Linked DNA regions of Homo sapiens. The main gene of each other region encodes a partner of the protein of the gene in region 3 in a complex. Each region holds a gene or a part of one and is shown on either strand. Other genes may lie near its edges. The genes, in order: HDAC3, CIRSR and NKAP.

Region 1 (3,749 bases), on a different chromosome or scaffold from region 3:
ACTCTCTGCAGGAAGTCAATGTAGTCCTCGGAGTGGAAGCGGCACATGTCATGTTGGGAGGCCTGGTATGGCTTGAAGACCTCGGGATGGAGACACAAGATGAACCCAGGCAGGGTCAGCCCCACTCCACAGGCTCAGACCACCCATACTGAACCCAGTCCTGGAGACTATATGAAGCCAAACATAGCATTCCCCTCATCCCACAATCCTTAAGTCAGTAGAGAGACTCCGATTAACCAGGTAAGTTATTACAAATGAGCCCCCTGAAGACCACTTCTTTTCCTTTCCACCTCCAGCTCAGCCTATCGTACCTTCTCAACTTTGAGCCCTGATCCACCTGCCCTGTTCCTTGGAATCTCCTATTCCCAGTTCTCTCCATGCTCATCTCCTCCCCCAAGCTCTGATTCTGTCCTCTTTCCTCTGGATTCTTCTTTCTGGAGTCAAATATATGGGATATATGTCAACTTTCTAATTAAAATCAAAGATTTATTATCTTTGGAAGGTCAGGGGGATGTGTCACACCTCTTTGAAAACTGCACAAGAAAGAGCTTTTCTTCTCCCAGAAAATGCACACAGGTACATACAGGCAAACAATCTCAAGGGATATAGATTCCTGCACTAACATCACCTCAGTCTTTTCTATGACCAGTCCATTTGTCTGTGCCTTGGCACAAGCAATGAACATTCATTCATATTGTTCACTAGTTTCCCTAGCAACACATAAAGCCTGGGTTTAGCTGTTTTGTCTTATTTTTTCTTTTGAGACAAGGTCCTCCCTGTCAACTCAGGCTGCTGATCATAGATCACTGTAACTTTAAACTCCTGGGCCCAAGCCATCCTCTCGCCTCGGCCTCCCAAGTAGTTGGGACTACAGGCACACCCACCGCACATGGCTACTTTTTTTATTTTTATTTTTTGTAGATGTGGGTCCCACTGTGGCCCAAGCTGGTCTCCAACTCCTGGCCTCAAGCGATCCCCCCCATTTCAACCTCCCAAAGTGCTGGGATTACAGGCATGGGCCACCACGCCTGGCGTGGCTTAACTGTTACTATCCCATATCACAGCCATAAATTCCAAGCTGGGAAGACAGCATGTGTATGTCTGGTAGATGAAAAACTGGATAGCGATTAAGCAGAACCATGTAGAGGTATTCCAGGCTGAAAAAGGAATATCTAAAATATCGCCTCTGTTCCACACGCACATACACATTTACAAAGACGGCAGCATCGTTCCACCCTGGAGCCCTAGCTCCTTGGAGGTAAAGAAAGGTGGTAAAAGAGGAGTGGGAACTGAGGGTAAACCTCACACCCTGATACAGTGATATCCGCTCCCCTAACCCTAATTCCTGAGGCCAAGGCCCTATCCACACTCTAAAATGCAGAGGAGGAACACACCTTCTGTCTTCAAACCAGCCCCACATCACGCTAACCCTAGGCCAAGGGCTAGTGTGCCTACAGTCAGAGGGTGGCCGACCTGAGGTGAGAAAGTACTTTCCATTAAGCAGAGGACGCCACCCCCAACACCCTGCACTTTCAAGGTACTCCTGGTGACTTCTATCCAGCTCCCCGATACTCTAGGGGCGGGTCGCACTTCATGCACTCAGTCCAGCCCACCTATCCCTACGGCCACAGCTCGCCCCACCCCCCAACCCCCGGCCGAGGCGGCGGAACTCACGATCATCTTCTTATAGAGACCGTAATGCAGGACCAGGCTATGGGTCAATGCCAGGCGATGGGGCTTCATAGGGTGTCCAGCTCCTGGGGGTGGGGAGAAGAGAGTTCGTCAGCTCTCACCCCTGGAGTTGCAACCCCGCCTCAAAACCTCCGTGTCCCAACCCCTCATGCATATCCCTGTTTCCTCACCGTAGTGGAAGTTGCCCACGTCGGGGTCGTAGAAATAGGCCACGGTCTTGGCCATGGTGCCGGCGGGAGCAGGCCCCGCACCTCCGCCGCCCGCCGCCCGCGGCCGCCGCCAGCCCCTCCCCGGCCGTGCGTGCTGCGCAAGCACGTAGCCGGCCTCTGCGGAACTGGGCGTTGCGGCCCCGCCTCCATCCACACCCAGGCCACGCCCCCAGGGGAGCTCCGCCCCTCGCCCGGCTCAGCTCTCCCGGTATCTGGGGCTTTGAGCGTCCCGGGTTGGGCAGGGAACTGGCAGCATAGCTCCTAGGATGCGAGGGCCATTTGTCTCCGGCCGGGGGTCAGATCCTCGGGAAGCCGAGCCATCCCATCCAGCCGCTTGCCCCAAACCGGGCGCAGGCCGTGGTCACTTCTCTAGGAAGCTCCGAAGATCCCGCCACTCCGTCCCTCAAAGGTGCGGAAAGCCGGCTTCCCCCAGCCCTCGGAGAAGATTCCTGACTCTCCGCTCGGTCGGGGCATCTGAGGGCAGGAGCTGCGCCAGGCGTACCGGATAGACCAGTGGACAACACCCACGCCGGACCGCCTGTCCCCTACCCGGACCCAGACTCGGCGCCGCACATTGCCCCGGGGGGGCCCGGCGCAGTCACGCGCGCGCAGAGCTCACGCTCTCCGCCCCGCACACCTGCGCTCCGCCCCCTGGTCCTGGGCCCGCGACGGGTGAAGGCATTTGGGAAGCCAGGGCGGCTGCGGAGGCGATCTCCCTGACCCAGGGCCGGAGTTGCCCGGAGCCTGCCACCGCTCTCAGCCAGCCCGCATCCTTCTCTGTTCTTCCCTCCCCCCGCCTGCCACGGCGCGGGTATCCGCAGCCACAGCCCGGGGCCGGTGAGGCGGCGAAGGGGGAGGGGAGGAATCAAGGGATGAGCGCCGGAAGGGCGTCGGGGGCCCTGAGCCGCACTAGGACGCCCCTGGAGCCGGAACCCCAGCAGAAGCCGGAACCAGAACCAAATCACCGGTACCGGGTCGGCCAGGTGGTCAGGGTGGGAGAAACCAAAAAGGGAGAGGGGTGCGGGAGTACTGAGAGGAAGGGGCTGCAGAGGCCTGGCTCAGGCCGGCGTGGAGGAGGTGCGGGCGCTGACTCAGGCAGGATTTCTGCTCCCGCCGCCTAAGAATGCCGTCCCATCTCGTGCTGCAGTGTCCTTGGGAGGGACAGAAGCGCGAACAAGCTGGAAAGGGGAACGCTCGGGGCGTCGGGGAAGCGGGACCAGGGTCGTGGTAGAGAGCTTGCGTTGCCGCTGACCTCTTGCCGAAAGGCGAAACAGCACTCCTGGCCCGGACAGCTCCCTGGTTGGGTAGGGGGTGGGGCCGGACCTCAGCCGGACGTCTTAGACGTGCTTGTTTCAGATCCTGAGGACGGCATTCCTACCCCTCCCCCATTCCCAGCTGCAGCCCCCTAAACCCAGGAGGCGCCCTGGCCCGCGCTCGCCCCCCAGGGCCTCATGTCGGAACCACAGCCTGACCTGGAACCGCCCCAACATGGGCTATATATGCTCTTCCTGCTTGTGCTGGTCTTCTTCCTCATGGGCCTGGTAGGCTTCATGATCTGCCACGTGCTCAAGAAGAAGGGCTACCGCTGCCGCACGTCGAGGGGCTCTGAGCCTGACGATGCCCAGCTTCAGCCCCGTGAGTGAGGAGCCTGGAACCCTGGCTCAGTCACCTTTCACCCTTCTCCCCACACCTCTGCCTCCCTGACCAACAGACCCAGGCCAAATCCTGATCAAACCTGCTCAGGAAGCCTAGTGATGCACTCTTGAGTTAGCAAGTGGGGTGACACCACTCTGAAAGCAAAACTAGAGAAAGCAGCATGGGCAGGAACGGTCCTCTGGATGGTAGTCT
Region 2 (3,749 bases), on a different chromosome or scaffold from region 3:
TAGACTAATATAGTAAATTGGTATAGGTAGAATGGAGGGCTGCTAAAAGGATACCCGAAAATGTGGAAGTGACTTTAGAACTGGGTAACAGGTGGAGGTTGGAACAGGAAAATGTGGGAAACTCTGGAACTTCCTAGAGAATTGGAGTGCTCAGAAAACAGGAAGATGTGGGAAAGTATGGAACTTCCTAGAGACTTGTTGAATGGCTTTAACCAAAATGCTGATAGTAATATGGACAATGAAGTCCAGGATGAGGTGGTCTCAGATGGAGATGGGAAACCTTTTGGGAAGTGGAGTAAAAGTCTCTCTTGCTAGGCAAAGAAACTGGTGGCATTTTGCCTCTGCCCCAGAGATCTGTGGAACTTTGAACTTGAGAGAGATGACTTAAGGTATCCGGTAGAAGAAATTTCTAAGCAGTAAAGCATTCAAGAGGAAGCACAGCATAAAATTCTGGAAATTCTGCAGCCTGACAATGGAATAGAGAAGAAAACCCTATTTTCTGGGGAGAAATTCAAGCCGGCTGCAGAAATTTGCATAAATAATGAGAAGTCGAATGTTAATCACCAAGACAAGGGAAAATGTCTCCAGGGTATGTCAGAGACCTTCACAGCAGCCCCTCCCATCATAGGCCTGGAGGCCTAGGAGAAGGAAAAAAGTGGTTTCCTGGGCCGGGTCCAGCCTCTCAACTGCTGGGTACAACCTTTGGTCTTCGTGCCCTGCATTCCAGCCACTCCAGCTATGGCCACTGCTTCAGAGAATGCAAGCCCCAAACCTTGGCAGCTTCCATGTGATGTTGGGCCTACACGTGCGCAGAAGGCAAGAACTGAGGTTTGGGAACCTCTGCCTAGATTTCAGAAGATGTATGGAAACACCTGGATGTTCAGGCAGATGTTTGCTGCAGGGGTGGAACCCTCTTGGAGAACCTCTACTAGGGCAGTGCGGAAGGGAAATGTGGGGTCGGAGCCCCCACACAGAGTCCCTACTGGGGTACTGCCTAGTGGAGCTGCGAGAAGAGGGCCTCTGTCCTCCAGACCCCAGTATAGTAGATCCACCAACTTGTACCATGTGCCTGGAAAAGCCACAGACACTCAACACCAGCCCATGAAAGCATCCAGGAGAGGGGTTATACCCTGCAAAGCCACAGGGGCAGAGCTGCCCAAGGCTTTGGGAGCCTACCTCTTGCATCAGCACACCCTGGATATGAGACATGAAGTCAAAGGAGATCCTTTTGGCACTTTAAGGTTTAATGACTGCCCTATTGGATTTTGGACTTGCATGGGGCCTGTAGCCCCTTTGTTTTGTCCAAATTGTCCCATTGGGGATGGGTGTATTTACCCAATGCCTGTACTCCTGTTGTATCCAGGAAGTCATTAACTTGCTTTTGATTTTACAGGCTCATAGGTGGAAGGGACTTGCCTTGTCTTACATGAGACTTTGGACTTAGACATTTGAGTTAATGCTGGAATGAGTTAAGACTTTGGTTGTTAAGGGCAGGATTGTGTTTTGAAATGTGAGGACATGAGATCTGGAAGGGGCTGGGGTGGAATGGTATGGTTTGGCTGTGTCCCCACCCAATCTCATCTTGAATTGTAGTTCCCATAATCCCCGCGTATCGTGGGAGGAACCCGATGGGAGGTAACTGAATAAAAGGGGCTGTTACCTCCATGGTGTTTTCGTGATAGTGAGTGAGTTCTCAGGAAATTTGATGGATAAAACCATCAGAAAAGGAGCTTTTCCTCTTTTGCTCGGCATTTCTCCTTGCTGTCACCATGTGAAGAAAGACGTGTTTGCTTCCCCTTCTGCCATGATTTTAAGTTTCCTGAGGCCTCCCCAGCCCTGCAGAACTGCAAGTCAATTAAAATTCTTTCCTTATAAATTACCCAGTCTCAGGTATTTCTTCATAGCAGCATGAGAACAGACTAATACTAATACAAGACTAATATGGATCAGTAAACAAACACTTTCTTCTTTTGGGTGGTAAAGTTGCATATTGTGGGACTATACCATAATTTATAATTTATTTATCTCATACTGTATAAATGGGCACTTAAGAAATTTCCAGTATTTTGCTATTAAAAATTTTGCTGCAAGAACTCAATACACAGGTAATTTCACACACATTTGACAGGGTTTTGAAAAGGATCAAGGCATGGCCAAGGAAAAAAACAGGGCAAGATATAACTGGCAGAGAGAATGACTCAGGCAAAGGCCCAGAGATATAAAATAGAACGTAAGTAGTTCAATATTACTAACATATAAAATCTTAGGTTGGGCTGAGGTGGGCAGATCACCTTAAGTCAGGAGTCTGAGACCAGCCTGGCCAACATGGTGAAACTCCATCTCTACTAAAAATACAAAAATTAGCCAGGCGTGGTGGTGTGTATCTGTAATCCCAGCTACTCGGAAAGCTGAGGCAGGAGAATCACCTAAGCCTGGGAGGTAGAGGCTTCAGTGAGCTGAGACTGCATCACTGCACTCTAGCCTGGGCAACAGAGTGAGCCTCCATCTCAAAAAATAAATAAATAAATAAATCTGAGGTGGGAGAATAGTAGGAGGGGAGAAGGAGAAAAACGATGGAGTGAGATTACTTGGACTCAATCCTGTAATATTTTAATAACAGGCTGAAAGAGATCAGATTTGTGCTTAAAAAAAGACAATTCTATCGAAATAACTTACATTCATACAATGGAATATTATTTAGCAATAAAAAGGAAAAAGTACCAATACATGCCATACCATGGATAAACTTCAAAAACATTATGGTGAGAGTAGCCAGTCAAAAAAGACCACAGATTGCATGATTCCATTTAAATGAATTTCCAGAATAGGCAAATCCACTAACAGAAAGTAGATTAGTGCTTGCCTAGGGCTGGAGAGAGGGAGAAGAGTTAAGGAAAAATGGGAGTGACTAACAGGTATGCAGGTTTCTTTTTTTTTGAGTCAGTGTCTCACTGTCACCCAGGCTGGAGTGCAGTGGCGCAATCTTGGCTCACTGCAATCTCCGCCTCCCGGGTTCATGCGATTCTCCCACCTCAGCCTCCCAAGTAGCTGGGATTACAAGCGCCCGCCACCACACCCAGCTAATTTTTGTACTTTTAGTAGAGACAGGGTTTCACCATGTTGGCCAGGCTGTCTTGAATTCCTGACCTCGGGTGATCCACCCACCTCAGCCACCCAAAGTGCAGAGATTACAGGTGTGAGCCACCATGCCCAGCGGGGGTTTCTTTTTGGGGTGATGACAAAGTTCTAAAATTGTTTGTGGTAATGATTACTTAACTCCATGAATACATTTTAAAAACCACTAAATTGTACATTTTACATGGGTGTTTGTATGATATGTAAATTTATCTCAGCAGAGCTGTTAAAATGAAAAATGACTATTCTGATGGCTGTGTAGTGAATGGATTTGAGAGGACTCAAGATTGGAGGCAGTAGAACCACTTAGGAAATGCAACAATATAGGTGAAAGATGATGAGGGTCTGAATTAAGACACAAGCAGCAGTGACAGAAAGGAAAGATGGATTCAAGAGATATTTGGAAGGTAAGACCAATAGCATTCAGTGATTGACTAGATAAAGGAGTGATGGGAAAAGGGATGAATCCTGAGCTTCTGGTTTGGGCAACAGGATGAGGGACTGTTTTACTATCTATATTTCTACCCATATGAGATAGCAAGTATAAAAAGGGCTGATTTGGGGTAAAAAACTTTTATATCAGATATGTTGAGTTTGAGGTGCCTATAGGACAT
Region 3 (3,749 bases):
ACATTACAGATGAAACCAGGTGACAACAGGACTTCCTGCTATTTACAGCCTGGTAGGCGTTCTTCCCCCGATATCCATACATTCCAAGTACAGCTATAAATATGTTACCTTTTAAATTGTCTGTTACTTCAGGTGGGAAACCCTCTCAGTCTGACTCTGCATAGTTATAATACCTTTTCCCCTGATTAAGGAGGCAAAAACGATTTATACAAAAACTCATTGCAATTATATTTATTTTGGAAGGATTTTTAAAAACAAATGGAGTCACAAGCAGCTAAAATTTGAGAGAATGAGCCTTAGTCTTTGTTTTGTTTTGTTTTTTAGTTTATGAGGAATAACAAAAATTAAAACAGAAGAAACCATAGGCATAAAACAAAAGAAGAAACAAATTTTAGTGTCCTTCAAAGAATAGATACAAAATGCACTCCTTTTCCAAAAAGGAACTAAAAGGAAAACAGAGAGGGAACAAACCTTGTATCTCATTGAGTATAGTTTTTTTTTTTTTTTTTTTGGTTTTTTATTTTGAGATAAGAGTCTCACTCTATCACCCAGGCTGTCATGTGCAGTGGCGTGACCTTGGCTCACTGCAACCTCCACCTCCAGGGTTCAAGAGATTCTCCAGCCTCAGCCTTCTGAATAGCTGGGACTACAGGCACATGCCACCGTGTCCAGCTAATTTTTGTATTTTTTTTAGTAGAGACAGGGTTTTACCATGTTGGCCAGGCTGATCTTGAACTCCTGACCTCAGGTGATCCACCTGCCTCGGCCTCCCAAAGTGTTGGGATTACAGGCGTGAGCCACCACGCCCAGCCCCAAGTATATTTTTTGTTAAATGAAACTTTTTGACTAGGTGCAGTGGCTCATGCCTGTGATCCCAACGCTTTGGGAGGCTGAGGCAAGAGGATTGCTCGAGGCCAGGAGTTCAAGATCAGCCTGGACAACAAAGCAAGACCTCTTTTTTTTTTTTGAGACGGAGTCTCGCTCTGTCTCCCAGGTTAGAGTGCAGTGGTGCGATCTTGGCTCACTGAAACTTCCACCTCCTGGGTTTAAGCGATTCTCCTGCCTCAGCCTCCCTAGTAGCCAGGATTACAGGCATGCGCCACCACGCCTGGCTAATTTTTGTATTTTTACTAGAGACGGGGTTTCACCATGTTGGCCAGGCTGGTCTTGACCTCCTGATCTCAAGCAATCCGCCCGCCTCAGCCTCCCAAAGTGCTGGGATTACAGGCATGTGCCACCGCACCTGGCGGCAAGACCTCATCTCTACAAAAAAATAAAAAACTTTTATTTCGGGCCCGGTGCAGTGGCTCACGCCTGTAATCCCAGCAACTGAGGTGGATCTCCTGAGGTCAGGAGTTTGAGACCAGCCTGGCCAACACGATGAAACCCCATCTCTACTAAGAATACAAAAATTAGCCAGGCGTGATGGCGCATGCCTGTAATCCCGGCTACTAAGGAGGCTGAGGCAGGAGAATTACTTGAACCCAGGAGGCGGAGGTTGCAGTGAGCCAAGATCGTGCTACTGCACTCCAGCCTGGGCGACAGAGCGAGACTCCATCTAAAAAAATAAATAATAAAATAAAATAAAAACTTTTCTTTCATTTTCAGAACTTCAGTTGTTTTCTACGTCTAATGCATCATTTTTATTTTCTTCATTAATTCCTCGATTTCTGAAAACTGAAGGTTTGACCATATCAAAAGAGACTTCTCTTCACCTTTCATAAATCTGTAAACAAATGAAGTTACTTACAAATGTGAAGCTGTTTCTGTCACATATTACAGATGATGAAATGAGCAGTTAAGAGCTGTGTCATGCATTCAGCAGAATGGATGCACTTGACAGTCTCCCAGGCCATCATTTCTATAGTCTGTACCATTTGATAGTATCATCAGAACATCAGACCTTAAGTGATGAGTTTACATTTAAACCAAGTTTTTATCCATGTTTAAAATATAAAGGGAAAAAAGGCTTAACTAGACTCCTATTGAATTTGATTATATATTTAGGAAACAACTCAGCCATTGAGTTATAATTTACATGTCTTTATCTGCTAGGAGATTAAGTGAGAGAGAGAGAATTGGAGAATTGGGAGCTCCTGAAGTATGGGGACTTTCTCCAAAGAATCCTGAACCAGAGTAAGTGGTTAAAAAATATATTTTTAAAATGTTATAATATGTGTTTAAATCCTGAATCTATTGTGAAAATGTTTAAGTGAAGAACTTTAAATATATCTCACATTTTTCTTTCTTGTGATTTATGTTCTTCTACCCCTTAAGTTTTAAAAACATAGAACATATCTAAAGATTAAAACATGTTGCTAGTAGGTTTTAGCATAATCTAAAATAATTCCTGGAATATAATTTTCCTATTAATAGAAGGGTTCATTGTTAAATAATACACATTATTTTGAATTATTTTTTCTCAACTAAACTCAGTGGCAGATTGCATGCCAGATATTAACATTACAAAGAGATTTTTTTTTTTGAGATGGAGTCTTGCTCTGTCGCCCAGGCTGGAGTGCAATGGTGCGGTCTCAGCTCACTGCAACCTCCGCCTCCTGGGTTCAAGCGATTCTCCTGCCTCAGCCTCCCGAGTAGCTGGGATTACAGGTGCCTGCCACCATGCCCGGCTAATTTTTGTATTTTTAGTAGAGACGGCGGTTTCACCATGTTGGCCAGGCTGGTCTCGAGCTCCTGACCTCGTGATCCGCTTGCCTCAGCCTCCCAAAGTGCTGGGATTACAGGCGTGAGCCACTGCGCCCAGCCTACAAAGAGATTTTTTAAAACGAATATACCAGTATGGTTTTGTTAATATTCCTATATCCAATACTATCTGCAGACTTAATGCTTTTTCTTTTTGCTTATTTCTTTTCTCTTTGATGCTACTCATAAGTTTCTTCTTCCCTCTCTGTTTCTGTGCCAACTTTAGGTTGAGTTGAGACAATGTGCTTGACAGGTAAACCTGTAATTTGTGATTGGATAATAAAGCATTATTATCTGAAACTTGTTCTTACAGATACCTTTAGAAAATGCTTGAAGAGGCCAGGTGCGGTGGCTCACGCCTGTAATCACAGCACTTTGGGAGGCCAAGGCAGGTGGATTCCTTGAGCCCGGGAGTTCAAGACCAGCCTGGGCAAATAACAAGACTATTTAAAAGAAAAAAAAAAGAAAACACTTGAAGAACCTGAATGTATTGAATTAGAGTTGGAAGGAACCCTAAAAATAGTTTTCTTTCTTCTTTTTTTTTTTTTTTTTTTTGAGACAGAGTCTTACTCTGTCACTCAAGCTGGAGTGCAGTGGTGCGATCTTGGCTCACCATAACCTCCGCCTCCCAGGTTCAAGTGATTCTCCTGCCTCAGCCTCCCGAGTAGCTGGGATTACAGGTGCATGCCACCATGCCTGGCTAATTTTTGTATTTTTAGTAGAGATGGGGTTTCACCATGTTGGTCAGGCTGGTCTTGAACTCCTGACCTCATGATCCGCCCACCTCGGCCTCCCAAAGTGCTGGGATTACAGGCGTGAGCCACTGCACCCAGCCAAAATAATTTTCTAGATAATATTTAAATTACTCCAAGTATGATCTTCAGAGGAAAAGATTATATGATGTGGAAACTCCTTTTCTAAACTATTGTAGAATTTGAATAATACTCATTTTCAGAATTCTCTGCAACAGAACAACATCTCTTTAGACTGTAGTTTGTTAGGTTTTTGCTCTGAGGAGACAGAACAGTTGCTGCTTTACCATTTGT

Evidence for each region.
Region 1: NKAP (region 3) and HDAC3 share a complex: the UniProt entries of both Homo sapiens proteins name them as parts of the notch corepressor complex.
Region 2: NKAP (region 3) and CIRSR share a complex: the UniProt entries of both Homo sapiens proteins name them as parts of the notch corepressor complex.

The regions. Positions count from the first base shown.
Region 1 is NC_000005.10:141,634,874-141,638,622, forward strand, and holds the start of HDAC3 (histone deacetylase 3), read right to left. Parts: upstream 1,977-3,749; 5' UTR 1,918-1,976; coding exon 1,863-1,917; intron 1,758-1,862; coding exon 1,675-1,757; intron 81-1,674; coding exon 1-80. Other genes in the region: RELL2 (RELT-like protein 2), read left to right, coding at 3,353-3,536. UniProt on the Homo sapiens protein: Histone deacetylase that catalyzes the deacetylation of lysine residues on the N-terminal part of the core histones (H2A, H2B, H3 and H4), and some other non-histone substrates.
Region 2 is NC_000002.12:174,389,081-174,392,829, forward strand, and holds part of CIRSR (corepressor interacting with RBPJ 1), read right to left. Parts: intron 1-3,749. UniProt on the Homo sapiens protein: May modulate splice site selection during alternative splicing of pre-mRNAs. Regulates transcription and acts as corepressor for RBPJ. Recruits RBPJ to the Sin3-histone deacetylase complex (HDAC). Required for RBPJ-mediated repression of transcription.
Region 3 is NC_000023.11:119,937,117-119,940,865, reverse strand, and holds part of NKAP (NF-kappa-B-activating protein), read left to right. Parts: intron 1-2,055; coding exon 2,056-2,136; intron 2,137-3,749. UniProt on the Homo sapiens protein: Acts as a transcriptional repressor. Plays a role as a transcriptional corepressor of the Notch-mediated signaling required for T-cell development. Also involved in the TNF and IL-1 induced NF-kappa-B activation.